7 linked regions of the Homo sapiens genome follow. The protein of the gene in region 2 purifies or fractionates together with the protein of the main gene of each other region. This does not show direct contact. Each region holds a gene or a part of one and is shown on either strand. Other genes may lie near its edges.

What was found.
Region 1: the proteins of PPARD (region 2) and USP34 purify together in Homo sapiens (affinity purification with mass spectrometry; one large-scale study listed by BioGRID and IntAct). This does not show direct contact.
Region 3: the proteins of PPARD (region 2) and TBCD purify together in Homo sapiens (affinity purification with mass spectrometry; one large-scale study listed by BioGRID and IntAct). This does not show direct contact.
Region 4: the proteins of PPARD (region 2) and ACACB purify together in Homo sapiens (affinity purification with mass spectrometry; one large-scale study listed by BioGRID and IntAct). This does not show direct contact.
Region 5: the proteins of PPARD (region 2) and RGL3 purify together in Homo sapiens (affinity purification with mass spectrometry; one large-scale study listed by BioGRID and IntAct). This does not show direct contact.
Region 6: the proteins of PPARD (region 2) and ARMCX2 purify together in Homo sapiens (co-immunoprecipitation; one large-scale study listed by IntAct). This does not show direct contact.
Region 7: the proteins of PPARD (region 2) and ARHGEF1 purify together in Homo sapiens (affinity purification with mass spectrometry; one large-scale study listed by BioGRID and IntAct). This does not show direct contact.

What each region holds. Positions count from the first base shown.
Region 1 is NC_000002.12:61,341,987-61,345,733, forward strand, and holds part of USP34 (ubiquitin carboxyl-terminal hydrolase 34), read right to left. Parts: intron 2,044-3,747; coding exon 1,829-2,043; intron 1-1,828. UniProt on the Homo sapiens protein: Ubiquitin hydrolase that can remove conjugated ubiquitin from AXIN1 and AXIN2, thereby acting as a regulator of Wnt signaling pathway.
Region 2 is NC_000006.12:35,411,811-35,415,557, forward strand, and holds part of PPARD (peroxisome proliferator-activated receptor delta), read left to right. Parts: intron 1-3,747. UniProt on the Homo sapiens protein: Ligand-activated transcription factor key mediator of energy metabolism in adipose tissues. Receptor that binds peroxisome proliferators such as hypolipidemic drugs and fatty acids.
Region 3 is NC_000017.11:82,937,054-82,940,800, forward strand, and holds part of TBCD (tubulin-specific chaperone D), read left to right. Parts: intron 1-217; coding exon 218-307; intron 308-995; coding exon 996-1,083; intron 1,084-2,313; coding exon 2,314-2,423; intron 2,424-3,747.
Region 4 is NC_000012.12:109,234,888-109,238,634, forward strand, and holds part of ACACB (acetyl-CoA carboxylase 2), read left to right. Parts: intron 1-425; coding exon 426-482; intron 483-718; coding exon 719-760; intron 761-2,277; coding exon 2,278-2,493; intron 2,494-3,747. UniProt on the Homo sapiens protein: Mitochondrial enzyme that catalyzes the carboxylation of acetyl-CoA to malonyl-CoA and plays a central role in fatty acid metabolism.
Region 5 is NC_000019.10:11,398,704-11,402,450, forward strand, and holds part of RGL3 (ral guanine nucleotide dissociation stimulator-like 3), read right to left. Parts: intron 3,545-3,747; coding exon 3,512-3,544; intron 3,430-3,511; coding exon 3,308-3,429; intron 1,595-3,307; coding exon 1,499-1,594; intron 1,406-1,498; coding exon 1,337-1,405; intron 1,267-1,336; coding exon of another isoform or gene 1,249-1,266; coding exon 1,152-1,248; intron 1-1,151.
Region 6 is NC_000023.11:101,657,051-101,661,554, reverse strand, and holds the start of ARMCX2 (armadillo repeat-containing X-linked protein 2), read left to right. Parts: upstream 1-1,704; 5' UTR 1,705-1,797; intron 1,798-2,020; exon of another isoform or gene 2,021-2,053; 5' UTR 2,054-2,136; exon of another isoform or gene 2,137-2,147; intron 2,148-2,406; 5' UTR 2,407-2,479; intron 2,480-2,941; exon of another isoform or gene 2,942-3,029; 5' UTR 3,030-3,094; intron 3,095-3,412; 5' UTR 3,413-3,482; intron 3,483-3,836; exon of another isoform or gene 3,837-3,839; 5' UTR 3,840-3,966; coding exon 3,967-4,504. UniProt on the Homo sapiens protein: May regulate the dynamics and distribution of mitochondria in neural cells.
Region 7 is NC_000019.10:41,881,943-41,886,120, forward strand, and holds the start of ARHGEF1 (rho guanine nucleotide exchange factor 1), read left to right. Parts: upstream 1-1,241; 5' UTR 1,242-1,347; exon of another isoform or gene 1,348-2,525; coding exon of another isoform or gene 2,526-2,551; intron 2,552-4,178. UniProt on the Homo sapiens protein: Seems to play a role in the regulation of RhoA GTPase by guanine nucleotide-binding alpha-12 (GNA12) and alpha-13 (GNA13) subunits. Acts as a GTPase-activating protein (GAP) for GNA12 and GNA13, and as guanine nucleotide exchange factor (GEF) for RhoA GTPase.

The sequences.
Region 1 (3,747 bases), on a different chromosome or scaffold from region 2:
TGCTGACCTCAGATGATCCACCTGTCTCGGCCTCCCAAAGTTCTGGGATTACAGATGTGAGCCACCGCACCAGGCGATTTCTTTATAGCAACACAATAATGGACTAACACACAGTTCTCCAAAGTGATTATATTTTATGTTCAACAGCAAGTTATGACAGTTCCAGCTCCACATTCTAATGTCAATCCTTGATAGTATCAGTCCTTAATTTTACTCATTTCAATAGGTATGTAGTAGTGCCTCACTGTGGTTTTAACTTATATTTACTAGATGACAAGAGACACTGAGAGTGTACTTACTGGCCGTTTCCTTTTTTTTTTTTTTTTTTTTTTAAGACGGAGTCTCACTCTGTCATCCAGGCTGGAGTGCAGTGGCGTGATCTCGGCTCACTGCAACCTCCACAGCCTGGGTTCAAGCGATTCTCCTGCTTCAGCCTCCCAAGTAGCTGGGACTACAGGTGAGCACCACCATACGCAGCTAATTTATTTTTTTTTTTTGTATTTTTAGTAGGGATGGGGTTTCACCACGTTGGCTAGACTAGTCTCGAACTCCTGACCTCAAGTGATCTGCCCACCTCAGCCTTCCAAAGTGCTGGGATTATAGGTGTGAGCCACCATGCCCAGCCCTTATTGACCATTTCTATGTATCATCTTTTATGTAGTATCTGATCAACACTTTTGCCCATTTTTAAACTGACTGTCTTACTCTGTTGGAGGAGGTCTTCTAGTACTAAAAACATTGTAAAACAAGGTAGATTTGGAAAGCATTAACATATACTATCATTTTATTCTGTCTACAATGGGTTGTGAAAAGAAAACCATTTTGTTCAATTTCTAACTCCACGCAGTAAAAAATAGGTAAAATATTGATTAAAGGAAAATTTGAGAAAAGAATGGTAACAATTTACAAATATGGCATCACATTCAGTCAGATGACCTCAATCTAACCTATTCCTTTCTCAACAACCACAACAGCACAACAATAAAATAAGTCAAAGTAACTTAACCTAGACAGATCATGTACAAAAAACACATACAAATCAGTAAATTGTTGCCAAGGTCCACAAGTTGTGTTTCTAAGTGTGTTTATGGCCTCTTTGCATAAACGTAATCCATCCGGTTTACTTATAATGTACTGGCTATCCAAAACCCATTTACTAGGCCAGCATATGTTGATGATACCAACCAAACAAGAGGTTTAAGGCCTTTAAACTGCCAATTCTAAAACTGTTTTTCACTTTCTTATTTTTTCTTGCTTTACTCATTAATTCCCTACTACTCTTTACCTTCCTCCATCCTCCATTCTTTCAAGTCTGGTCATGTCCTATTACTTTAAGAGTGATTTAGACTTGAACAATCATTTCTCACACTCGCCCCTCCTTATTCCCTCCTACCCTTCCCTAACCCCAAGCAACCACTAACCTTCTGCCTGCAGATTTGCCTATTCTAGACATATCATATAAATGGAATCATACAATTTTATCTTTTGTGATTTCCTATACTTTTAGGTCCTAGGATTTCTGAGTATAAATTCTAATACAACCATATATTTTCTAAAATATAGAGCTTTAATTATTACATATTATTGCTATATATTTTCTTTCCCCGCTGAATATCTCAATAGAACTGCAGGACTTATTTATATTCATGATGGACTATTTATAATAATTTAATTCCCTTGGGGGAAAAAAAAAAACTACCATATGTAAGTTATTTTGACAAAAACATTTAAGTACCATAACCTTAACTATTGAGTCCTTTCAACAAAGTAAGATAAATTATTCCTGTTGTGAAGAAGGTAATATATTTTACTTACTGTAGAGTCTTACCTTGACTAAGATGTTCATGGTAAATGGAAGCTAAATTGGGAAGATGTTGTTGGAGGTGAGATGTCAGTTCCGCATGTGAATTAATCTGAACTAGCTCCTCTTCACATCCAGATTCTTCACCATCAAAATCAGCCATATTTTTTTCTGATTTTGCACTAACCTGGGAGCTACTACAACTGACATCATCTGCACTTAGCATATCATCAACCATATGCCTACAAAACAGAGAAAAGCACAAAGTTAGTAATTACGAATGTGAATCTAATTTGTGAACCACAAAAAATACCTCTCTTAAACTTACAAATACACTTAGAAACAAACCGACATCTGCTTATTAACAATATGGAATGTTGAGAGCTTTACGAAACTGAAAACTTCACACTGTCAGAATTATTAAATAATTTTACAATATACAGTCATATTACCAGGCCTATTAAGACACCTCATTAAAACAAATTCAAAGAACAATTTTAGGCAAGATCACTAATACTCACTGTTTACATATTATTTTATACTCAAAGTCTATAAAATGTGAAACCATAAAAAGTGTGGTTTTTTACAACTGTAGAATCAAACCAAAAAAACATTTCAATTTAAGGCTGCAGTCTTGATGGACTTAATATTAACTGGGGAACTTCTAACCAAACAAACCCAAATTAAGTATTCATTTCTAAAACACATTGTTACCGGACATAAAGACAAAATGATTTAAAAAATCGAAAAATAACATGAAGTTCAGGGTTGATTTAGAGACTCACAAGTAGTACCATTAATACACAGAATATGAAAAGAGCTAAAATGAAAAATTAAATCATTAGGTCTTGTGAGGTATGGAATGGGTATAGGTGTCAAAACTAAGATTTGCAGTGTACCAAACTGAATATATTGCACCTCAGTTTTTTAACTGCTTTGTCTTCATCATGAGCTGTGCTGGGGACAACTGTGAATGTTTGTATCTATAATGCAAGATAGTGAGCCAGTGGTTCCCAATCAGGGGTGAATTTAGGCCCCTGGGGGAAATCTGGAAATATCTAGAGATATTTTTGGTTGTCAAAACTGAGGAGATGCTAGTGGAATCTAGAGATAAGGCTCAGTATAGTGGCAAACATTCTGCAATGCACAGGGCAACATTAGCATTGCTATACATTCAAATAAAAAAAAAATGTTCTGGCCCAAGGCTGGGCATGGTGGCTCACACCTGTAATCCCAGCACTTTGGGAGGCCGAGGCAGGCGGATCATTTGAGGTCAGCAGCTCAAGACCAGCCTGGCCAACATGGTGAAACCCCGTCTCTACTAAAAATACAAAAATTAGCTGGGGCATGGTGGTGCATACCCATAATCACAGCTACTCGGGAGGCTGAGGCAGGAGAACCACTTGAACCCAAAAGGTGGAGGCTGCAGTGAGCCAGGATCGTGCCACTGCACTCCAGCCTGAACAACAGAGTGTGACTGTGTTTAAAAAAAAAAAAAAAATTGTAATTATCTGGCCCAAAATGCCAATCTTGAAAAACACTTCCTTAATCTCAGATGCATCAGTGCTAAGAATTAAAAAGCAAAGGAAATAAAGAAGTAATATGTATAGATATGTAGAGTTCACCCTAACAACTTAATTGCATTCTGGAAGATCTGGCAAATTGTCGAGTATAGCAAAACTCAATCTGATAAAGGGCATACCCATGATTCACCATAAACTCACATAGTATCACTCGTAACGACAATGATAAATATACAGCTAACACTTATCGAGCACTTATTGTGCACCAATCACATTAGTTAGCCCAGGAAATCCTCACAATAAAACCATGAGATAGATACTATTGTGCCCATTTTATTTTTAGAGACAGAGTCTCATTCTATTGCCCAGGCTGAAGTGTAGTGGTGCAATCACCACTCACTGCAGTCTTGATCTCCTGGACTC
Region 2 (3,747 bases):
TTTCTCTAGTACCCTGTACTGTTCTGTCATCTTCATCATCATCATGTTATGTTTACCTTCAAAAGCACCCAGAATCCATGCAGCCCCTGGCTTTCCCTGCTGCAGTTCCCCCTGCTTTTTTGTTTTTGTGGTTTTTGAGACAAAGTCTCCTTCTGTTGCCCAGACTAGAGTGCAGTGGCACAGTCTCAGCTCACTGCAACCTCTGCCTCCTGGGTTCAAGTGATTCTCCTGCCTCAGCCTCCCGAGTAGCTGGGATTATAGGCGTGCACCACCACGCCCGGCTAATTTTTGTATTTTTTTAGTAAAGATGGGGTTTCACCATGTTGGCCAGGCTGGTCTCGAACCGCTGGGCTCAAGCAATCCACCCACCTCAGCCTCCCAAAGTGCTGGGATTACAAGCAGGAGCCACCGCGCCTGGCCTGATCCCTCTGCTTCTTGCTTTCTCCCACCACTTCTCTCCTTACCCAAGTGCTGCAGGCCTGCACATGCAGCTCATCCTCGCTCCTCCCCTTAGAGGGAACTCAGGGTCATAAGGATATACTGCTGGGAGTAGACACCCTGCACTCGCTGCTGCTTTCAGCTGCAGGAGATCCTAGCCACAGGCGGTGACTCAGGCAGAGGAGCAAGCCCACCCCGCAGAAATGGGCTCTGGACCCCTGTGACTGCATGGAGCAGGAGGAGGCAGTTAGTGTCCAAGCTAAGGCAGGGTGAAGGCTGTGGAGGTAGCGCAGGCTCCTGTTTGGGTCTGCAGCTAAGATGGGTCTGAATCCTGGAGCCACACCACCTTGAACCTGCAAAGCAAGTCCCAGAATTTTGCAGAAGTTCTTCCTCTTCAGTGTATAGAGTTGGGTGGAGGGAGTATAGAGCCATCATTCAGTCCTTCTCATCTCACCCAGGATCACCTGGGAGTGACCAAAGTAGGCCAAATGTGATTCTAGGGCCAAAGTGAAGGTGTCCGCCATTCCCCGAGTAAGCAACTTCCTGTCTATTGGCTGGTAACTGGGATGGCTTTGGAGACACAGCCTGTCTCAGAAGAGAGGAACAGCTAACCAGGAGTGATAATTCACTCAGTGCCAGTAGCACATACTGTTCTAAATCTGAAGAAGGTAGGGAGGGTTAGAAAGCAAAGGGAAGACAGTGGGGACTAAGAATGAGTGTGGGATGTCATGAGGATTCAGGGGAGAATGCAAGGAGAAGAGACGGCCACAGGGTTTGTGGCTATGCCGCCTGCCGTGGCCCACCTCATCCCCACATCTGAGCCCAGGCAGATGGAAGTCCCCTGCAGAGCAGTGTTCTGTCCTGGAGTTTCCTCCACACCCCTTCTTGGGACCAGGGCTGTTTCCCAAATAGCATCACTGTTCCCGTGCAGGCCAGGTGAGGTGCCTGGGAGCAGGGGTAGGGTGAGGCAGGCATGGCGGTGACCTCTCAGGCAGCTTCGTTGTGGGATTTAGGGCACAGCGGGAAACGTCCAGGGCAGAGGTTGCCTCACCAGTCACATGGTACTATGTAGGCGGTGGTGTTTAATAGATTCTGTTTATCAATAAGTGGATGAAGTGGAGATAGACTTCCTTGTTCAGTCATTGAAACAGGAGAGAGGGTTACTTGACATAATCACTTTGTGTTAAAGCTGTAGTGTATGAAAAGTTCCCAAAAATTCTACAAGACAAGCAACCTAGCAGGAAAATCAGAACAGGTAACAGTAAGACAAATACGAATGGCCTGAAATCCCGACAGGTTTTTCAGTCTAACCAACTCAAAGAAAGCACCTTAAGTTGCAATGCCATTTCACCTGTCAGATGGGTGGGGAGGACTTGGTCCTCCCACCACCAGGGGTGAAAGGGTAGTGTGGGCCAACACTTCTTAATGTGTGATTCTTTTTTTTTTTTTTTGAGACAGAGCCTGGCTCTGTCGCTCAGGCTGGAGTGCAGTGGCACACGATCTCAACTCACTGAAACCTCTGCCTCCCGGGCTCAAGCGATTCTCCTGCCTCAGCCTCCCAAGTAGCTGGAATTACAGGCGTGCACCACCGTGCCTGGCTAATTTTTGTATTTTTAGTAGAGATGGGGTTCCACTGTGTTGGCCAGGCTAGTCACGAACTCCTCAGGTGATCCTCCCGCCTCGGCCTCCCAAAGTGTTGGGATTTCAGGTGTGAGCCACCACACCTGGCCAAGTGTGCATTTCTTTTACCCTGCATTCCCACTTCTAGGAACGTGTCCTGTGTAAGTACTTGCTCAGCATGCTCAGAGATTCCCATGCCAGCTTATTTACTGCAGGACTGCTCATAAGAGCAAAAATAGGAACGTGCCCATCTGTGGGGAACTGGTTATGTAAACTGTGGTAGAGCCATATGGTGGAATACTCTGGAGTCATTGAAAAGGATAAGGCTGGTTTATATATATATTAAATAAGTTCCTGACAAGTTGGGGATCCCATTGTTTAAAATCCTTATGTTTCATAGAAGGCACCGGAAGAGTCTATACCGAAGGACTCAGGGGCTAACTCTGAGGAGCAGGATCATGGTTAAGGAGGCTGTGTCATAAGATCCTGCATACCCTTCTGTGTTTTTCTCAACAAGTCTGCACTACTTCCATAATTTGAAAGGCAACTGTACTTTTTTTAAGGGTAAAATTAACTGTTTAAAAGGGGGGTGAGGATCTGGCAGGTGAGGGGCCCTGGAGACAGAGCCTGATCATGTGTCCAGAGCAGAAGGGCTTGGAGATCACAGAGACCAGGGCAGGCATCCCAGGTCTGTCACTGTGAGCTGTAGCCCTCGCCAGTGCCATCACTTCTCCAAGTCTCATTCTCTTCACCTTTATAGGCTGTGTCCTACCCAGCCTGAGGGCCAGCCAGGTGAGAGTCAGTGGGGGTATGTGACACATCGCAGGTCTCAGCACCTGCTAGTTCTCTGCCCCATCCCCATGAGTTATTACTTTGGCCTCGGGAGTCCCCTGAGGGACCCATAAGGACAGCGCACAGCTTTGAGCCCTGAAACAGCAGGAAGGCTCCACAGTCACCCCTGACCACCCTCCTCAGCAGTTCAGCACTGACTCTCAGTGCAGATATTGAGCTCAACACCTGCCATGCACCTTCTCACCCTCCCCCCAGCCAGGCAGGACAGACCTTCCCATCAACAAGGAAACTGAGGTTACCAGAAACCCACTTGCCAGGGTCCCCTGGGCGTGTAGGAGTAGAGACAGCTAGAGCCAGGATTCACCTCCCATTCCCATTCTCATCCCTCCTGCTTCAGTGACATCCATCCCAATCACCCTTGAGAAAGAGGAAGATAAAGTGTCCTTCCTCCTGGCCTCAGCACCTCCTCACTTGGCAAGCACTTGGTGGGCATCAGGCTGGGCCCAGCACTGTGCCCAGGGCTGGCCATACAGTGGTGGACAAGGCTGAGTGCCTGTCCCAAGGAGCCCACAGTTCAGGCAAACAGGACAGCAGAAGTAAAGAGGCTGCTCAGTAACCCAGCCTCAAATCCCTGCAGAATTTGGCCTGACTTCAGAAGCTGCTGGGTGCTTGTTTGCCTGTGAGCTCTGCCAGCAAAGTAAATAGACCAATCGGGCGCCTCCTGGCTGTCTTCACAGCCATGACAACGGCATTCTCCCAGCATTGGAGGCTAGATATGCAGGAGAGCTCTCAGCCACAAATGATGTGAATAAGGTCAATAGTGTCTATTTGCTGAACTTGTCATCAAAGATGGTGAAACTGATACTTTACTCTCTGGGTGAGAGGGCTAGTGTTTAC
Region 3 (3,747 bases), on a different chromosome or scaffold from region 2:
GCCGGCCAGGTGGTGGCACAGCCGCTAGGGACCAGGCCGGCCTGTGGAGGTATTGGGATGGGGACCAGCGGACTTGCTGGCAGAGGGGCCTCAGGGCTGCAGGCTTCTTGGACTGAGCCACTGGGAGGACGGAGTTGACCTTCTTTGAGACAGAAAAAGTGTGCATCCCGGGGCTGCCTGTGAAAGCTCATCTCTAAAGTGTGTGTTGTTCTTCCAGCCACCCCTTTGCTGTGAAGTTGCTTGCGCTCTGTAAGAAAGAAATCAAGAATTCAAAAGATATCCAGAAGCTCCTGTCAGGCATCGCAGTGTGAGTTTCAAGTGCTGCTGGCCTTAGACGGAATGGCAGGGCGCAGCCTCCCTTGGCTGAGGGCAGGAGTCCACGGCTCCAGGCGGGAGAGGAGCAGTTAGTGTTACTCCTCAAGCTAACCTAAGATCGTGCATTCCAATGTTCAAAGCAGTCGCAATGGGAGGTGAGGCAGCCCAGGTGCTGGTGGAGGGAGTTCCCGCGGGAACAGGCGAGCTCTGCCTCTGCTGCCCTCGCGCTCTGCCCTGGCGGGAGGGGAGGCTCCGGAAAGGAGCTGCGTGGTCAGGGGCTGCCTCCCCGATTCTCCTGTGTGCCCTGGGGGTCGCTGTTGAGTGCCTTGCTCTGCGGCGCTCAGGTGGACACTGGGCAGGTGCGCCAGCCAGCGATAGGCACCTTGGCTGCTCTGTGGCTCCTTGAGGTGGGGGTCCTCATGGCAGGGCGAGCGGCCCTGCAGGAGATCCTCTGTGAGGCGTCCTCACTTCCCACAGTGACTTTCCAAGTGCGACACTCGTGTGTGTAGGCACAGTGCAGATGTACGCACACACACACCTCCGGCTTGGGGCCCCAGGCCCGCACTGTGCTCACGGATCTGCTCTGCCCAGGTCTCTGCATGGGCCTTTGGGTCCGGGGTTTGCTGGGGTTGGCCTGCGCGGGGTGGGGCTCACCTGGAGCCATGTGCTGCTCCCGGCAGGTTCTGCGAGATGGTGCAGTTCCCCGGCGACGTGAGGAGGCAGGCCCTCCTGCAGCTGTGTCTGCTCCTCTGCCACCGTTTCCCGCTGGTGAGTGCCTGCCCCTGCTCACGTGTGTTTGCCGTGTGGACACAAGCCCCTCAGTGACAAGAAGGCCTTCGCTGGCACTGTTGTGTTGGTGTGCTTTCCAGCCGAGCCCCTCTCGTTAACGCGCCTGGGTGACGACGCGTCACAGGCACGCGGCTGCCAAGGGGCTCTGGACGCCACTGTTCTGGCTTTAAGGACGGGCTGTCCGGCTGGCGTTTCTATGGACATACATTGAGGGGTGACCTGGCGGTGGGATCTGGCTCAGGAGCTTCCAGAAGGACCCAGGCTGAAGTGGTTCAGCCACACCTAGGGGCAGTGCCCTTCATCCCCAGCACTCCCCGGCTATTAGATTTCTAGGATTTCTTTTCTCCTGGCTGCAAAAAAAACCTCAGATGATACAAAGGTGACATTTTCCTAAAAGGCAAAAGTAACTTCATGTTGTATGGTGGTTCTCGAAGTGGGGTGCCGGACCCTCAGGCTTGGCACCTCTGGGGCTTCAGCAGTGCAGCTCTTGGGCCCTGTGCTGCCGACTCAGCACCTCCAGGGTGGGCCCGGGGCTCAGACCACCAGCGCAGTGAGACATGATGACCAGGGCACCACTCAAAAAGAGAGCAGGCGAGATTGCTTCCCTGATGAAAAGAGAGCAGGCGAGATTGCTTCCCTGATGAAAAGAGAGCAGGCGAGATTGCTTCCCTGGTGAAAAGAGAGCAGGTGAGATTGCTTCTCTGGTGAGGGAGCAGGTTGGTTAATAGATAGCGGGCGAGATTGCTTCTCTGGTGAGGTAGCAGGTTGGTTAATAGAGAGCAGGTGAGAGTGCTTCTCTGATGAAAAGAGAGCAGGCGAGATTGCTTCTCTGGTGAGGGAGCAGGTTGGTTAATAGCAGGCGAGATTGCTTCTCTGGTGAGGGAGCAGGTTAGTTAATAGAGAGCAGGCGAGATTGCTTCTCTGGTGAGGGAGCAGGTTGGTTAATAAAGCATTTAAACAAGAATGATGTCATCTTCACTGCTGGGATCCTGCAGCTAGCTGTGTGTCTGTGGAGGGAGGAGGTGGTTAATGGGCCTGGAAGGCACCTCCTCTTGGTTGCAGCCCTGCTGTGGCTGGGATGGGATGCAGGGTCAGCGTCCTCCTCCTGACGCCTTCCACTGACGGGGCTCCCTGGCCTGGGTCCTGTCGTCTCTCCGGGGTGGGGCGGTGGCGCTTCCCTCCGGCAAATGCACTGCATCCCTGTCCCAGATCCGGAAGACCACGGCCAGCCAGGTGTACGAGACATTGCTCACCTACAGTGACGTCGTGGGCGCGGATGTGCTGGACGAGGTGGTGACTGTGCTCAGTGACACTGCGTGGTGAGTGAAGGCCCTTCCTGCACGGCCACCTGGGCCTGGCACCGCCCCTCTTCCTGTCCCCACCGTGTCTACTCGTCTCTCCCAAAACCCTCTGATAGGAGGAGGAAAGAGGGTTCCCAGGTCTCCACATCCTCTGCTTAGGTTTTACAAGGCAGCCGTGCTGCTGTAGCCGAAACCTCTTCTCAACCGCCCTGTCCCCAAACAGTGTCAGGTGTCAGGAACACAGCAAAGCCATCCATCCCACCAGGGGAGCGGGCACCTGTACCACAAGGCTGTGTCTGGTGGCCTGTGGAGCAGAGGGCACTGAAGGCCTGGCAGGTGCTGCTGCCCCAGACCTCTCTAAAGTTCTCTTGGAATAGGCCGTGTGAGCACCTGTTGGAAATCAAGAGGCACAGGCGGAAATAAGAAAAGCTCTCCCCACGCCTCTGCTCTGATGTCCACCCCCTTCCTCAGGGCCATGAGGCCCTCAGGAGGCCATAGTGCCACTCTCCACGTTTACTTTGGCAGGCACAGTTTCTGCAACATGGGCTGGCTTCTTTACCATGGGTGGAGTAGAATGGCGGTTTTGAAAGATGTGTGTATTGAGTTGGGGGTGGGAGGGTCTGAATGAGAGCAGAGTGGGGAAAGTGCAGGCTCAGGTGTCCTGGGCCAACCGGTATGTTCCTGGGAACAGCAGTGATGGTGTCTTACACATATGGGCATGGGCACCCATGCTGGCTCACACACATGCTCACTTGCACGCGCGCACACACACACACACACACACACACTTCTAAAAGGGGAGCAGTCTCGTCACCCCGTGTTGGAGATCAGGACTGAAGCAACCAGAGGCTGTGTGGGTGTCCACATGGCATACCCGGGGTGGTGGAGTCCCAGGTGTCCTGCCTGTGGATGCTGCTCTGTTTTGAGTGCCGACTGTGAGGGCCTCCGTGCTGATCCCGGTGCGTTGCTACAGGTCTGTGGGGTCCACGCCCCTTGTTGAATCCAGCAAGGACGTAGGTGACGTTCCCTAGGTGTCTCCTCGGAACAGTGACCTTCCAACAGGGCTGGGTTCCCATAGAGCTCACGCACCAGGCAGCCGCTGTGGCCTCGGAGGACAGAGGTGGCCTCTCCAGGGCTTCCGCGAGGTTTTCTGGTTTGGGGAGGAGTGTGTGTCTGCTCCTAAACAAACACGTGGTCCCAGGAGAGGAACCGGGAGCAGCTGGGCTGTCTTCTCAACATGCGTTGAGAGAATGGCCATCTTAACTACTGCTCTGGAGACCCGTTTTTACAATGATTTTTTTAAAAAAAAACACCAAGGTGCATTCTGGACCAGATTCTAAAA
Region 4 (3,747 bases), on a different chromosome or scaffold from region 2:
CTGCACGTTCTGCACATGTATCCTGTTTTTTTTTTTAGAAGAAATAAGAAAAAAAGTGTACAATTTAATATATTTTTAGTATATTCACCAGGTTGTACAACCATCACCAGAATCAATTTTAGGACATTCTCATCACTCCATAGAAAAACCCTGTACCTGTTAGCAGTCACTCCCCTCTGTCCCCAACCCAAAAACCCTCTCCCCACCACAGCCCTAGGCAACCACTAATCTACTTTCTCTCTATATAGATTTGCCTATTCTGGACGTTTCATATAAATGGAATCAGATCACAGGAGGTCTCTTATGATTGACATCTTCCACTTAGCATAATGTTTACAGGTTCATCCGTGTGGTAACATGCAGCAATACTTCAGTTCCTTTTACGGCCAAATAATATTCCATTGTGTCTTTGGTTTTTAATGCAGAAAAATATCCTTGTGGATTATGGACTCCGACGAATCACATTCTTGATTGCCCAAGAGGTTAGTTCACAGTTCATCTCTATGAGTCTTTCCCATTCTCCAAGCCTTGGTGTGTGCCATTTATTTGATATTTATTTTGTAGATTTGGGTGAAAGAGATCATTAGAAAGGAGAAGGATTTCCAAATGATTCATTCTAGAAGTGAATGTAATCGTTTACAATCACTAAATAAGGATGTACATATTTCAGTGCGTCTTGCTTGATTTAATTGTCTTGTGTGTGGATTTCTTTTTGCAGAAAGAATTTCCCAAGTTTTTCACATTCAGAGCAAGAGATGAGGTATGGCCAAAAGTAATGATGTTTTCTCTTCTCTAGCATCTTGTTTTATTTTTTAAGAGATGGGATGGGGCCGGGTGTGGTGGCTCAAGCCCGTAATCCTAGCACTTTGGGAGGCTGAGGCAGGAGGTTTGCTTGAGCTCAGGAGTTCTAGACCAGCCTGGGTTATATAGTGAGACCCTGTCTCTACAAAAAAATTAAAAAATCAGCCTGGCATTGTGATGCAAGCCTGTGGTCCCAGCTACTTGGGAGGCTGAGGTGGGAGGATTGCTTGAACCTGGGAAATAGAGGTTTCAGTGAGCCAAGGTGATTCCACTGCACTCTAGCCTGGGTGACAGAGTGAGACTCTGTCTCAAAAAAAAGGAAAAAAAAGAGATGGGGTCTCACTATGTTGCCCAGGCTGGACTCGAACTTATGGCTCAAGCGATTCTCTTGCTTCAGCCTCCCGAATAGCTGGGACTATAGGCACATGCCACCGTGCCTCCCAGCTCCCTGGCATCTTTGATATTCATGAAGAATATAGTCTGCAGTCCTTAAGGCATCCCCATATTCAAGAATGTAGCAACTTTTGTGTAGACTGCAGTCTTCCTCTGGGATTGTATTTCCATTGAGAGCCCTCTGTTCCCTGCATGGCACTCAGACCTGAGAATCTTGCCCTTTCAGCCTCACTACAGGTTTCTGTCTTGCTTGAATAATTTTCAGTACTTGCTGATGTACTCAGTAAGACATTTTTTCCAAACTGTTTTTCTTATGCTCGTCTAGAACAGTGGTTGGCAAACTCACTTGCAGACCAGCTGCCTGTTTTTACGAATAAAGTTTTATTGGAACACAGCCACACCCGTTGGATTCCACATTGTCTACTCTGGCTTTCACTCTAACAGTAGCAGAATTGAGTAGTTGTGACAGAGCCCGTATGATCCATCAGCCTAAAACATTTACTCTCTGGCCATTTAAGAAAACGTTTACCGATCCCTGTTGTAGAACAGGTAGGTTTATTCCCAGCACTGATTCAAGACCCCACCAAATTCAGCATTTTGCATTTTAATTTATCCAAAGCTTTATTTTTCTAGCTAAGACACATCCTTTTCTTAATGTCTTCATTTTTTTTTTCAGTTTAGTTTCCAGTACTGTCAGTTGCTTTCTTTTCGGGGACCAATTTCCACCAAGAAACCAGGGGTTAGTGGCTTCATGAGAATTGCCACAGGCTGTGACAGATGGAGAACAGCCTGGTCACGCTGGCAGGTGATAGGGACTAGCTAGGTTCCCCCAGGAGCCAGCGCTGCACCCAGCACAACAGGCTTGCAATGCCCATAGCTCTCCTCAGATCTTAGCAAAACCCCAAATATCTGGAGCCCTGGGGGTAGCTTACAATTAGGGAACATCATGAATGCTGCATTCCTGAGTGCCAAACCCATGGACACCAGGGGTCTGCAGAGTAGGGTGTGGACCAAGCAGGGACGCAGCTCCAACGTCACGCTGTGTGTGTATGTGTCTGTCTTCTCTCTCTGGTCCGCCTACAGTTTGCAGAAGATCGCATTTACCGTCACTTGGAACCTGCCCTGGCCTTCCAGCTGGAACTTAACCGGATGCGTAACTTCGATCTGACCGCCGTGCCCTGTGCCAACCACAAGATGCACCTTTACCTGGGTGCTGCCAAGGTGAAGGAAGGTGTGGAAGTGACGGACCATAGGTTCTTCATCCGCGCCATCATCAGGCACTCTGACCTGATCACAAAGGTAAGATGTCGCAGAGCATTTCTTCCTCTCTCAGAACCTGGCCCTCCCTTCCTTACATTCCTGCTCTGTGCTGGGTCCTGGGCTGCATGCTGGGGATGGAGAGTACACCAACACCCAGGGTCCTGCCCTTGCTATGCTCCAGTCCAGGGCAGGAGGCGGACAGCAAAGTGGCCTGTGATCACGTCCAGGCTGGTGGCACTTGGATCTGTTTCTTGTATTATGTGGGTCTCTGCGCATGAGAAGAAAATTTCCAGGATAGAAAAATACTGGTTTGTTCAGGGAATTTCTTAATATTTGCTGACTGAGTGATCGTTTTCCATTGTTTCTTGCATTTAGAAAAGTAATCCATGGCCGGGTGCAGTGACCCATGCCTGTAATCCCAGTACTTTGGGAGGCTGAGGTGGGCGGATCACTTGAGGTCAGGGGTTCAAAACCAGCCTGGCCAACATGGTGAAACCCTGTGTCTACTAAAAATACAAAAATTACCTGGGCGTGGTGGCGTACACCTGTAATTCCAGCTACTCAGGAGGCCGAGGCATGAGAATCGCTTGAACCTGAGAGGCGGAGGTTGCAGTGAGCTGAGATGGAGCCCTTGTACTTCAGCCTGGGGGATAGAGTGAGACCCTATCACAAAAAAAAAAAAAAAAGAAAAAAAGAAACAGAAGTAATCCATGATTATATTGTGAAAATTTTAAATAAGACTGAAAACGATTTTTAAGAACCTAGCGCAAGGACCGAGAATCCTGTCACTGAGGGGCCAGCTTAGTTGTTGACTGTTTCTAGACACAATTCCGTCCCTGAAACCTAGAGTTGTAGGCATAAGTTGCAGATAAGAGCTGAGAGTGGACAGATCATTTGAATATATTATTCTTTAATTGGTCAGTCACTTGTGGACCTCTTTCATTGTTAATAAAGAGTGGTCCACCACATATTATTTCCTTGCATGGATGTACCGTGTATAATTTTTTTTTTTTTTTTACTAATCCCCTATTGATGGAAACATATATATATTATTATATATATAATTATATATAATAATATATATAATATATTATATAATATAACATATAATATACATAATATAATATATAATATGTTATATAACATTATATATACATAATATAATACATATTATATGTATTTATATAAATATATATTTATATAAATGTATATATAATTATTATATATATATATTTTTTTGGAGATGGAGTTTTGCTCTTGTTGCCCAGGCTGGAGTGCAATGGCACAATCTCA
Region 5 (3,747 bases), on a different chromosome or scaffold from region 2:
GTCACCAGGCTGGATGGAGTGCAGTGGCACCATCTCAGCTCACTGCAACCTCCGTCTCCTGGGTTCAAGTGATTCTCCTGCCTCAGCCTCCCAAGTAGCTGGGACTACAGGTGTGCGCGACCATACCCAGCTAATTTTTCTATTTTCAGTAGAGACAGGGTTTCACCACGTTGGCCAGGATGGTCTCGATCTCTTGACCTCGTGATCCGCCCACCTCGGCCTCCCAGAGTGCTGGGATTACAGGCGTGAGCCACCGTGCCCAGTCTCTTTTTCTTCATAAACAGGATCTCGCTCTATCATGCAGGCTAGAGTGCCGTGGCATGATCGTAGCTCACTGCAGCCTCAAACTCAAGCGATCCTTCCACCTCAGCCTGCTGAGTAGCTGGGACTACACCCAGCTAATTTTTTTGACTTTTAATAGAAATAGGGTCTCACTATGTTGCCCAGGCTGGTCTTGAACTCCCGGCCTCAAGCAATCCTCCCACTTTGGCTTCCCAAAGTGCCGGGATCACAGGCAATAGCCACCGTGTCTGCCATGGTATGCAGATTCTTAGGGACATACATGTCCTCAAAAAAGTGTAGGCTGGGTGCGGTGGCTCACACCTGTAATCCCAGCACTTTGGGAGGCCGAGGTGAGTGCATTGTTTGAGCTCAGGAGTTCGAAACCCACCTGGGCAACATGGCGAAACCTCATCTCTACTAAATAAAAAAAATAGCAGGGCATGGTGGTGCACACCTGTGGTCCTAGCTACTTGGGAGGCTGAGGTGGAAGGATTGCTTGAGCCTGGGGGAGGGGTGGAAGTTGCGGTGAGCTGAGATTGCACCGCTGCACTTCAGCCTGGGTGACAGAGCAAGAAGACCCTGTTTCAAATAAAAAGGGGTGTGATGTGATTGCACCCTAGATGACCCATGGGCAAGCAGTTACACAGGTCCAAATCTGAGCACGAGTCGGATTTATGAGTGATCACCCAAACAGGGCCGTGCAGATGCATGCAATCCCCTGGATGGATACCCCGGGCGCTCAGTGTGCCTCCTGTATACACTCCTGGCCCCACAATCCTGTGTGTACACATGTGCATGCACACACACGTGCACACACACAGAGCCTGGGTGCCCGCAGGCCCGCATGCACACACAAGCCGTCTTGGTACCTTGGTGCTGGGGCCCTGGGGCCCTGGAGAGGCCGGGGGACTGCCAGCAGGAGCATCTCTGCTTCTAGGACTTGAGGGGGGTGACCCTGGGGACACACTGGGGGAGATGCAGAGGCTGAGGTGGGGTGGCTGTGCTGACTCCTGATCCCATGATCCCCAGTCCCATCACCAAGCAGAATGCTCACCTGGAGGTGGGGGATGAGGGGTCCCCGGGACTCCCACTAGGTGATGAGCTTTTCTCTCGGGCAAGCTTCCTAAGGATGGGGACAGGGGATGAGGCTAAGGCAGGAGCAGCCCTTGCTGATATCTGCCCACATCACCGCCCCTACACACACCCCGAGACTCACGCACTGAGACGCTTGGTGAGGCTGATCCGCCGTCGGATGCGTGGGGAGCTGGGGCAGGAGGCAGCTGGTGGCTCAATGACCCGGGAGAGCCGGTAGCTGAGGGGTCAATATGTGGATGAGGTGGTGGGGGCAGGAAATACAGGGGATGGAGAGATAAGAGTTGGAATCAGTTGGGAGGTGGGTTTGGGGTGTAAGGGGGAGCAGCCAGAGGTGGCACCCCACATGCCAGGGTCAGGGTGGTAAATGAGGGTCATTGAGCATCAAGGTCTTATCAGAGATGGGACAGGATGGCTGGTCAGGAGGTCACAAAGAGATTCACAGGGTGGCACTAAGGAATCAAATTGGGTCAGGATTAAAGTCAGGGTCAGGACTGGGTGCAGTGGCTCACGCCTGTAATCCTAGCACTTTGGGAGGCTGAGGCGAGAGGATTGCTTCGGGTCAAGAGTTCGAAACCAGCCTGGCCAATATAGTGAAACCCCGTCTCTACTAAAAATACAAAAAAAATTAGCCAGGTGTGGTAGCTCGCGCCTGTAATTGCGGCTACCGGGGAGGCTGAGGCAGTAGAATTGCTTGAACCTGGGAGGCGGGGGCTACAGTGAGCCGAGATCACTCCACTGCACTCCAGCCTGGGAAACAGAGCCAGACTCTGTCTCAAAAATAAATAAATAAATAAATAAATAAATAAATAAATAAATAAATAAAATAAAGTCAGGGTCAGACTGGGGTCAGGTCACCATTGGGGTCAATGGTTAGGGTCACAGTTATATAGAAAGAAAGGACACAGTTGTCATAGTCAAGCTGGACAGTCAAACATAAAAGTTGGAGTCAGTTACTCAGAACTGAGGGTCAAGGGTTGGGGTCAGAGAGTCAGATGAGGGGTCATGAATAAGGTCATGGGTCAGATAGGACCAAAGATGGGGAAGTCAACAGATGGGACAGTTGAGTTGAATGGCCAGCTGAATGCTAAAGTTGAGGTCAGAAAATCAGATGGGGTTGAAATTGAGGTCAGAGGTCAATTGTGACTATTTTTTTTTTTTTTTTTTTGAGACAGGGTCTCACTCTGTCACCTAGACTGGAACTGCAGTGGCGTGATTTTGGCTCACTCCAACCTCTGCCTCCCAGGCTCCAGCAATCCTCCCACCTCAGCCTCCCAAGTAGTTGGGACCAACGGCACTCAACACCACATTCAGCTAATTTTTTTTTTTTTTTTTTGAGACGGAGTCTCGCTCTGTTGCCCAGGCTGGAGTGCAGTGGCACCATCTCGGCTCCCTGCAAGCTCTGCCTCCCGGGTTCACGCCATTCTCCTGCCTCAGCCTCCCAAGTAGCTGGGACTACAGGCGCCTGCCACTACACCTGGCTAATTTTTTTTTTGTATTTTTAGTAGAGACGGGGTTTCACTCTGTTAGCCAGGCTGGTCTCAAACTCCTTACCTCATGTGATTCACCCGCCTCGGCCTCCCAAAGTGCTGGGATTACAGGTGTGAGCCACCGTGCCCAGCCACGTTCAGCTAATTTTTGTATTTTTTTGTAGATATGGGGTTTCGCCATGTTGCCCAGGCTGGTCTCGAAATCCTGGGCTCAAGTGATCCACCCACCTTGGCCTCCCAAGTGCTGGGATTACACGAGTAAACCACCAGGCCCAGTCTATTTGATTCGACTGGAGATACTGCAAGGTCACAGGTTGTAGTGGGGGATCAGGGCTCAAGAGGGGGTCTTGGGAGGAGCTGGAGGTGTGTATGGAGTGGGTGGAATCCAGTTGGTGACCCAGGCTCAGCTGGGGTGGGGCTGGGACAGGCTACAGGGTGGTCACCTCTGCTCCTCGGTGAGCTGGTTCTGGGCATGCAGGGCAGCCAGGATGGGCGGGTGGGGGCTCAGGGTGTAGCTCTGACAGCGCCTCTGCAGCTGCTGGATGCGGGCCAGGATCTCCCACTCCTGGAGGACGAGCCTCTAAGACCCTACCCCTGCCCCACCCCCACCCTCAGGCACCACCACACCCACTGTAGCCTCCACTCACCTTCCTCCTCTTCTCAAAGTTAATGAGATCCCCCTGGGGGCAAAGTGTGTCTGAATTGCAGCACCCAGGGTCAAGGGTCAAGGGTCAAGGTCAGGGGCTGGGATGTCAGGAGCCCCACTGTAGTAAGGGAGTGTGGGGTGGTGTCAGGAGTACAGGTAGGATCAAGGGTGGATATTGGGAGGCCCATTGTGCTGGGGGCAAGTGGAGCTGGGGTCAGGGGTCAAGGGTCAGGGGTC
Region 6 (4,504 bases), on a different chromosome or scaffold from region 2:
CAGGTGGTCTACAGAGTTGACCGGGTGAGAACACCTACTCTGGGTTCATCAGTGGGGATTGTTCCCTGGGCATACATTTGGTTGAGAGGGCACCAAGGTGGATGTGTACTGGCAGGCAGTAACCTTGCAGGAAGGCTAGACTCTTCCTAGGTCCCCTGGAGCTAAGGAGGCAGAAGTGAGAGGCCCAGGAGGATGCATCTCTTAGGCCAAGTGGTAGTAGCAGACAGTGTTTGGAGCAAGGTTCACTGGTAACCACGAATAAGGACAGACAGCAGTCAGGCCTGGGAACTTCCCCCAACAATCACTTTTTGTGTGATCACAAAAACCTTTTTGTGAAATCACAGGTTTCACAAATCGTCAGCTGCAGGGTCAGGTAAGAACAGCAATCCTTTCTATGCATCAATGGGTTTCCTCTGGGAACTTGGGGGAGGGACGGAAAGAGCCAAAGACATTTAACCAGGTCTGCATCTTGGTCACTTGTCTGGATATATTTTGGGTGTGAGCAACTGAGCCAGGTACCTGAATGCAGGAGATGAGCGGCTCTGGCATATGGGAGGGAGTAGAGAGACAGCATCTCCCTCCTCCTCCTGACAGGGCAGGGAGGATTTGACCACTCTGCACCCACCACACTCAGTTTCCTTGGCCTCACAGCTCTTCCTTTTGCCCAGAGTTGAATCATTAACTGGAACCTAATCCGAAGACAGGTGTTTAAAACTGTCATGGTTACAGCCATCAAATTACAGGAGGTTCACACACAGCAGTCAGCAATGGTTTGGGAATATTAAATAAATGTGTTTCTCTAACAGGACAAGACAGGATCATTTATTTATGCAACTTAAAAGCTGTCCCAGAAGGAGAAAAAAGTAGCGTATTATTTGTCCAAAATAAACAAGATTGAAGAACTGAACATCTCTCTGTGGATCAATTTACAGATCACATGGAAATATGCTTATCTTATTGAGAAATATTCCATTTTAGATGTTCAAATACCTTAGCATATTTTAAAAACTATTTCCTATGTGACCAAAAGAATTCATGTTCTATTCGGTAAAAATTAACCAAAATTAATGGTGCTTTCCAATGGACGCAGGAAACCTTTTTTCTTTACAAAACATGCCCACCCTTTTTTTGTTGCTACTTCCCACATTGAATTCTTGTTTTACTGAATTTTCTTACTATAAAAATAAAGCATGATGATAGTTTTGAAAACAAAACAGAAGTATTTGAGAAGTACAGACCCCACTCCCACTCCTTGTCTCCTTTCTGACACTCTGCCCCTTAACTATACTGGAACAGGGAGTCAACTGCAAGGAAAATCCTGGGGACTAGGGGCTGAGGAACTAGAGGTGGAGAGATGGAAGAGTGTCCAGTAGCCCAGGAAAGGATGAAACAATTCCCCAACAAAAAAGTAAAAATTTTCAGTAGCCCTCCGAGAAGATGCAGCCCCTCCCAGGTAACCAGAGAAAGGCAAATTGTGAAAGCAGGGAGAAGGGGCTACTTTAGGCCTCCAGGACTACAAAGACAAAAAAATGAGTGACAGGACCTGATGTGGTGGGGTGAGATGGGAATGGAAGTAAAGGAGGGGGCTCGTACTCTTGGTGGGAGTGGAAATTGGGGACCCAAGCTTACTGGCGATGCAGCCCTCACGTGACCAGGAGCTGACGTGGGCAAAGGTACTTAAAGCCCTGACCGTCGTTCTCCGTCCTCCTCTGGGTACCAACTCTATTGCGCAGCTCGCTGCCGTGCGTTTAACCCAGGCGAGGAGGAGGAGGAGAAAATTCCCCCAGATTCGGGCAGGTGGGTGTGAGGGTGGGCACAGTCTGGGACCCCTGAATAGGGGTAATCTAGGGATGCGGGAGTCGGAGGCCGCGGGTGCCTCGGTCTCCCCCACTCCTGGCCGGCTTTCCAGACCTGAGGTGCTCAAACGCGGCTCATTTTGGTGGGCGGTGGGGAAAGGGGGAGGGGGAAACGAAAAGACTTTTGATAGACTTTACGAAGAATCCGCTTACTTCCTTTCCAGCCAGTGTTTTTTGGTTTTGTTTATAATATTCAGGCCCGCACCCCACATTCCGTCCTGTTTTGAGAGGAGGAGGGAAGAGAAATAAACGTGGCAGCGCATAGAAGGCCAGCAGGGAGGTTGGGAAAGGGTAACCAGGAGGCGGGGGTGGGGCATGCAATTTGGTAACAATCTGGGCGGCACACTCCCACCCTGACTTTCCCCACCACCGCCCCGGCACCCTCCCATCCCCCAGCCGACCCTCTGTGATTTGGGAGTGCTGGGAAATGGGTGTACCAGCTGCTGTTGGAGAGGTGGCGGGTTTGGCGCTGTCTGGGCTTCACGGGAGGTGGGGGGGAGGGGGCGGACCCTGAGAGAATCTGGTATTAAACCGCCTTGTTAACTCGCAGACTGCTTTCCAGACACCTCCGGCCCACACAGCCGTTCACCCCCCGTCTTTTCAGTCCTGGAAAAGGAATTCGGGTATGCAGGCGGGAGAAATGGCGGTTGTTGGGGGGATTTGTGGGAAGTGGGAGGTAGAGCCCATAGCAGAGAAATCGTGGAAAATCTCGACCCTGAACCCGAAAAGGCAGACGTTGAGGCCCCTCTTCTGCAGGCTAACGCTAGGCCTAGGGGCTGGGGAGCGAAAGATGGGTGATCCTGGGAGGGGAACACTGAATTGTTTGGCAGGAGTCCCCCATACCGCGTCCCATCCAGCTTTTGCTGCACCCTCGCCCCGCTCCCCTCCCGCTTCGTTGCAGGAGAAGGGGTGTGGCGGTGTGTCCTGGAGAAATGGCGGACGGGGGCGGGGCAAAGCGGAAGGAGGGATTGAGTGCCTGGGGAGCCTGCGCAGGAGGAGGATTGAGGTGGGAGGGGTGGGGTGAGAAGAGTTGAAGGAATTGAGAGGTAGAATCATTTGACATTCTGATGTGCAAACACGAAAAGGCAGTTACTGAGACCCTTGTCCTGGATGCTGATCCATCCACCAGGCTTTCATTGTCTAACGTCGACAGTCTATATTTCTGCTCTTCAGTCTGTCCTTAGGATGAAGCTCTAACTGAACTGAAGTAAGGAGAAACAGCCTTGAATCTTTGGAGGGTCAGTGCTGGGGTTGGAATTGTCTGGGGCCCCCTGGTGTGGGTGTGGCAGAGACAAGAGTAGAGTATGGGACCAGAGGCTCCTCCTGCATCTTCTCTCTTTTAATTTCAAAGACACCCTTGCCCCAGGCCCTTTCTTTTTGGTGCAGAGAAAGGGGCGTGGCATCTGCCTTAGTTAATATTTGGGGGAGGAGAGGCTGAAGAGGAAAAGAGGATCCCTGAGGGGGGAAAACCTTTGACCCACAGGGGCCCAAATCAGGAAAAGAACCAGAATTCGTCCACCAATGGCTCAAAAACGCCCTTTCTGATCTGTCCTCAGGTCTGTCTTCCTTTTGGGCTCTGTGCAACTGCAGCTACAGTGGAAAAAAGCAAACTGCTCTTGATCCCAGGTTGGTATGTGCATGAGCACCATGTAGGGGCCTTGGGGGTAGGGGGTGGGGCATCATAGCAGAATCTGAGATCTCTACTGTTTTTCCAGCTCTCTACCAGCTTTACCCATGTCTGTACTGCCTCTCGTCCTTCCATTTAGATGCTGGAAGTTGTAGGCATTGGCAGAGCAGGCTAAGGTTGAAGATGTAGAAAACGTTAAACTAGGTCTGTGAATCAGCAAACACAGGCCTTGACACCTGTGTCTGGGTGCTAGCCCGCCAACGAAGCATTGTGTCCCTAAACTCTTCTCTAAGTAGAACTGGTTAGACACGAAGTGAGCCAGAGCCCTAAGCCTCATTTTTATCCTTTACCCCTAGGCCCTGCCTAAGCCTCAGCAGAACTTGTAAGCCTAAACTGAAGAGCCTCACCCGGACGAGCAGGCATCCCTTAACCTTAAGCAATCCAGTTCCACGCCCTGGATCAGTGAATAACCCCAGCTGCACCATGAGCCGCGTTCGGGATGCTGGCTGTGTAGCGGCGGGGATAGTGATAGGGGCTGGTGCCTGGTACTGTGTCTACAAATACACCAGGGGGAGAGACCAGACCAAGAAGAGAATGGCCAAGCCCAAAAACCGGGCTGTGGCTGGGACTGGAGCCAGGGCTAGAGCTGGGCTAAGAGCCGGATTCACAATCGACCTTGGGTCAGGATTCAGTCCCCCAACCCCAGTCCGTGCTGAAGCAGAGGACAGGGCCCAGGATGAAGCCTCTGCTCTGGACACAGTTGGAGCTGAGGCAGTGGCCCCAGCTGCATCCAGCGCTGAGGCTCAGAGTGGGGCAGGCAGTCAGGCCCAAGAGGCAGATGGAGCCGGGGTTGGGCCTAAGGCCGAATCAGTAGTTGGGGCTGCAATGGCTTCTGCAATAGCACCACCTCCCGGGGTGACAGAGGCCCTTGGGGCTGCAGAAGCCCCTGCAATGGCAGGGGCTCCCAAAGTGGCAGAAGCTCCCAGAGAAGCGGAGACTTCCAGGGCAGCGGTGCCTCCTG
Region 7 (4,178 bases), on a different chromosome or scaffold from region 2:
TTTTTTTTTTTTTTTTTTTTTTTTGAGGCAGAGTCTGACTCTGTCGCCCAGGCTGGAGTGCAGTGGCGCAATCTCAGCCCACTTCAACCTCCACCTCAAGCGATTCTTGTACCTCAGGCTCCCGAGTAGCTGGGATGACAGGCATGTGCTACCACACCCAGCTAATTTTTGTTTTAGTAGAGACAGGGTTTCGCCATGTTGGCCGGGCTGGTCTCGAACTCCTGACCTCAAGTGATCCACCATGCTTCGGCCTCCCAAAGTGCTGGGATTACAGGCATGAGCCACTTTATGCGTATTTAAGCCTTGGAAACACAGGGACTATCTTGTGGATTGGGGCTAGTACAGAATTCAGACTGCAGCCTTTTCCCGATGCGTTGACTTACAGAAGGGGCATTTTGGAGGGTCTGTGGTCCTAACCTGGGGATAGCAGGGAGATCCCGGGGCAATGACAGAGAGGCACAGAGACACGGATTTCCTGAGAAAGGGAGAGGAGAGAGGCTGAGACCCAGGGATCATGAAGGGGACGAGCAAGGGAAGGAAGAGATGATGAGACCCTGGGAATCCGGGAGAGAGACAGGGACGTGGAGAGAAAGGGACAGAGAGAGAGCGAGAAGGAAAGGAAGAGACAGAAGGGAGAAGGGGCAACCGAAAATGGGCACGAAGAGGCCCAGGCACAGCAACAGCTGGGGAAATGACAGAGACTGAGACGGAGATGCAGAAAGATACAGAGAGAGCTGGAGAGGGTAGAGAAGGGCTTTCGGGGAGAAAGTGATGGAGGGACAGAGAGGAGAGGTGGAGGCCAAGGAGGGAAAGACCCCAGTAGAGAAAGACAGAGGGACAGAGAAGGGGATGCAGACGCAGGCGGGAGCACACCCACAGAGGCGAAGGAAGGGCGCAAGACCATGAGAACCACAGACGCGGAAAGCCGGGGAGGTCGTGGCTCGGTCTAGGGCGCACGGGGAGCAGGGCTTGCCCCCCAGCACCTCCGGGGAGGTGACCCCAGCCGGGAGATGCGAGTCCCGCGGAGCCCGCGCCCGGCGGACGGACCGATGGACAAAGCCGGGGAGAGCTCGGGCGCGGCCGGGGCGGGGGCCGGTGCCCGCAGGGACCCGGGCGCAGCGGGGAAAGGAGGGGCGGGCAAGCGGCGAGAAGGGGAAGGAAGCGGAGGTGCCGGGCGGGCGCGGGGCGCGGGCAGGAAGCGGGGAGGGGCGGCGGGGCGGGGGCCTCCGGAAAAACGCCCCGACTTCCTGCCCCGCCAGAGCCAGGAAGCGGGAGCCGGGACCCAGGGCCCGGGATCGCCGAGCCCGACCTCGGGCGCCCCGCCGGTCACCTCCGCGCGGACACCAGGTACTCGGTCCCCGGCCCCGCCCGGCCTCCTCCCCTCGGCTGTTGGGGGAAGTGGGGAGGAGGAGGGAGGGGCTGGGGCGCTGCCGGCAGCGGAGGGGCCCCCTTCGGACCCCACGGAACCAGCGGCCGCCCCTCCTTGGGCCTCAGTTTTCCCATCTGTCAAAGGGAGCAAAGAGGGGAGAACTCACACTTGACGAGTGCCCCATAGGTGGGGACGAACGGTGCGAGGCCGGGGCCAAGGCCTCCCACCTGCTCAGTGGAGAACGGACGATCACTACCATTGTACGGGTGGGGAAACCGAGGCCCGGGGAGCCAAACCGACTCGTCCCAGGGAACGCACATCGTGAGAAAGTGTGGAGTTGGGATTTGAACTCGCACGTGCTTTCCGCAAAGCGCCATCCTCCAACCCCCGCATGCTTTAGGGCCACCTAAAAATGAAAAACAACAATAACAACAACGACGAGGGTCGCTGTGAAGCTGAAAGTTGCAGAGTGCATTTGAAAGAGTTTTCGGAAAGCTCTTTTCTAGGTCATTAATTATACCGTGAGAGACAGGTGTAGGGAGAGAGCTGGAGGCCTTCTCCCATTGTACGGATGGGAAGACTGAGGTCTACAGAGAAGTCATTACTTTTTGCAGATTACACTGCATGTCAGAGGGAAAGTTGTGCTGGAACTCAAGACTATTGCTTTTCCGGTTCCAAAGGAAGGGGCTGGGGGTGGGAGACGGAGGGGATTGATGTACGAGGATTGGAAATTCAGCGGGTCCCCTAAGTGGGGAGACTAATAGGACGGGGAGCCCCAGTCCGCCGTCCGAGTGCTCAGCGCTGGGGTGACTAGGAGATCTCCGATCGAACTCGGGAGGAGTTGGACCCATCTGCACCTCCGGGCGCGGGGCGGGGCCCGGGGAGTGACGGGGGCAGTCGAGATACGGAAACGCTGGCCCTCCAAGACAGGCCAGAGCGGCCCTATCTGGCCTGCGTGGCGCAGTACAGCGCTAGAGCGGCCGGCGGGAGGAGTAGAGTCGTCGGGGCCGGAGCCCGGCAGGAGCCGGGCTAGAGCGGCTGGCAGGAGGAGTGGAGCTGGGCGCAAAGGTGGACTCAGGGCGGCTAGAGCGACGCGGCGGCAGGGGTGGGGAGAGTGCGGAGCCCGAGCGCGGAGGCTTCGGTTCCGGTGGCGGCGATGGCTTCTCTTTCCACCTGGAGCAGGTGAGGGACGCGGTCCCCAGCGGGTGTCAGACCCTGACTCTGCACGTCCTCCCCGGCATCCCTGGCCGTGCACACTGCCACGTCCCCCGTAGGATTTAGGGCCCGCGTAAGACCCGCCACGTCCATGTAAGATTTGGGTCTCGTGTAGACCCGCCTCATTCCGTATAAAGTCTTACAGACCCTCCAGGTTCCTGCCAGCCCCCCATGGAGAACTGGCTTCTTATAGACGTGGGGTCCTCATAGACCAGTGGCATCCCCTAGAATCCGGGGCTCTATAGACCATGGGTCTCGGGACCCACCACGCACCCCTATGGAATTCTGAGTCCCTTTTAAGTCTCCAGAGGTTCCACAGACTGGCAGCTGTCCCTATAGAATCATGATCCTGTATGATCCCTGGATCCTTTAGACCCACTGTGTGTCAAATAGAATCTGGGGAGTTACACATTCCAACGACTCTTTTAGGTTCTTTAAGGCTCCAGAAGTTCTTGGAGACCCTGAGTCACCTGCTCAACACATTATAGACCCTGAGACCTCCATAGAACTCAACACCCATGTGGCCCCCCAACCCATGGACCTTCTAAACCAGCCCTAACCCCCCAGCGCCCCATGCACGCAGTGTTCCCTCTGCTGGACCCCCCAGGCCTTGTCAGTTGCCTATAGATCCATCTATTCTCTGACAGCTTCACCTATAATTCTCCAGCCTTTGTGGGACTCCCCCAAACCCCTCCTCCTAAACAGGCGACACTCCTCGCCTCCATCATCTCCAACCCCCAAGCCTCTGTGGAGCAGCCGTATCCAACTTGCACTCCTGCCTAGGCCATAGTGACCACATACCCGTGACTTTTCCAGGCATCCATAAGAAGACATGATGTGTCTCAGAGCTTTGGTTCAGATTTTAGTTTCTGAAGGGTAGGGTGGGGGCTCCCCATGCTCTGAAGCAATGCTCTCTGTTTTATTTTGTTTTATTTATTTATTTATTTATTTTTGAGACGAAGTCTCACTTCTGTTACCAGGCTGGAGTGCAGTGGCGCGATCTCAGCTCACTGCAACCTCCGCCTCCCGGATTCAAGCGATTCTCCTGCCTCAGCCTCCCGAGTAGCTGGGACTACAGGCTCGTGCCACCACGCCCAGCTAATTTTGGTATTTTTAGTAGAGACAGGGTTTCACTATGTTGGCCAGGATGGTGTCGATCTCTTGACTTCGTGATCCGCCCGCCTTGGTCTCCCAAAGTGCTGGGATTACAGGCGAGAGCCACCGTGCCTAGCCTATTTTATTTTAAGACAAGGTCTCACTCTGTCGCCCAGGCTGGAGGGCAGTGGCACAATTTTGGCTCACTGCAACCTCTGCCTCCTGGGCTCAGGCGATCCTCTCATCTTAGCCTCCCAAGTAGCTATGACTACAGGCATGAACCACCACACCTGGCTATCTTTTGTAGAGATGGGGGTTTCACCATGTTAGCCAGGCTGGTCTCGAACTCCTGAGCTCAAGTGATCCACCTGCCTTGGTCTCCCAAAGTGCTGGGATTACAGGTGTGAGCCACTGTGTCCACCAAATGCAGTTTATTTTAAATGCGTAAACTCTGTAGCCCAACTGCCCAGGTCTGAGTCCTGGTTCTGCCTCTTATGAG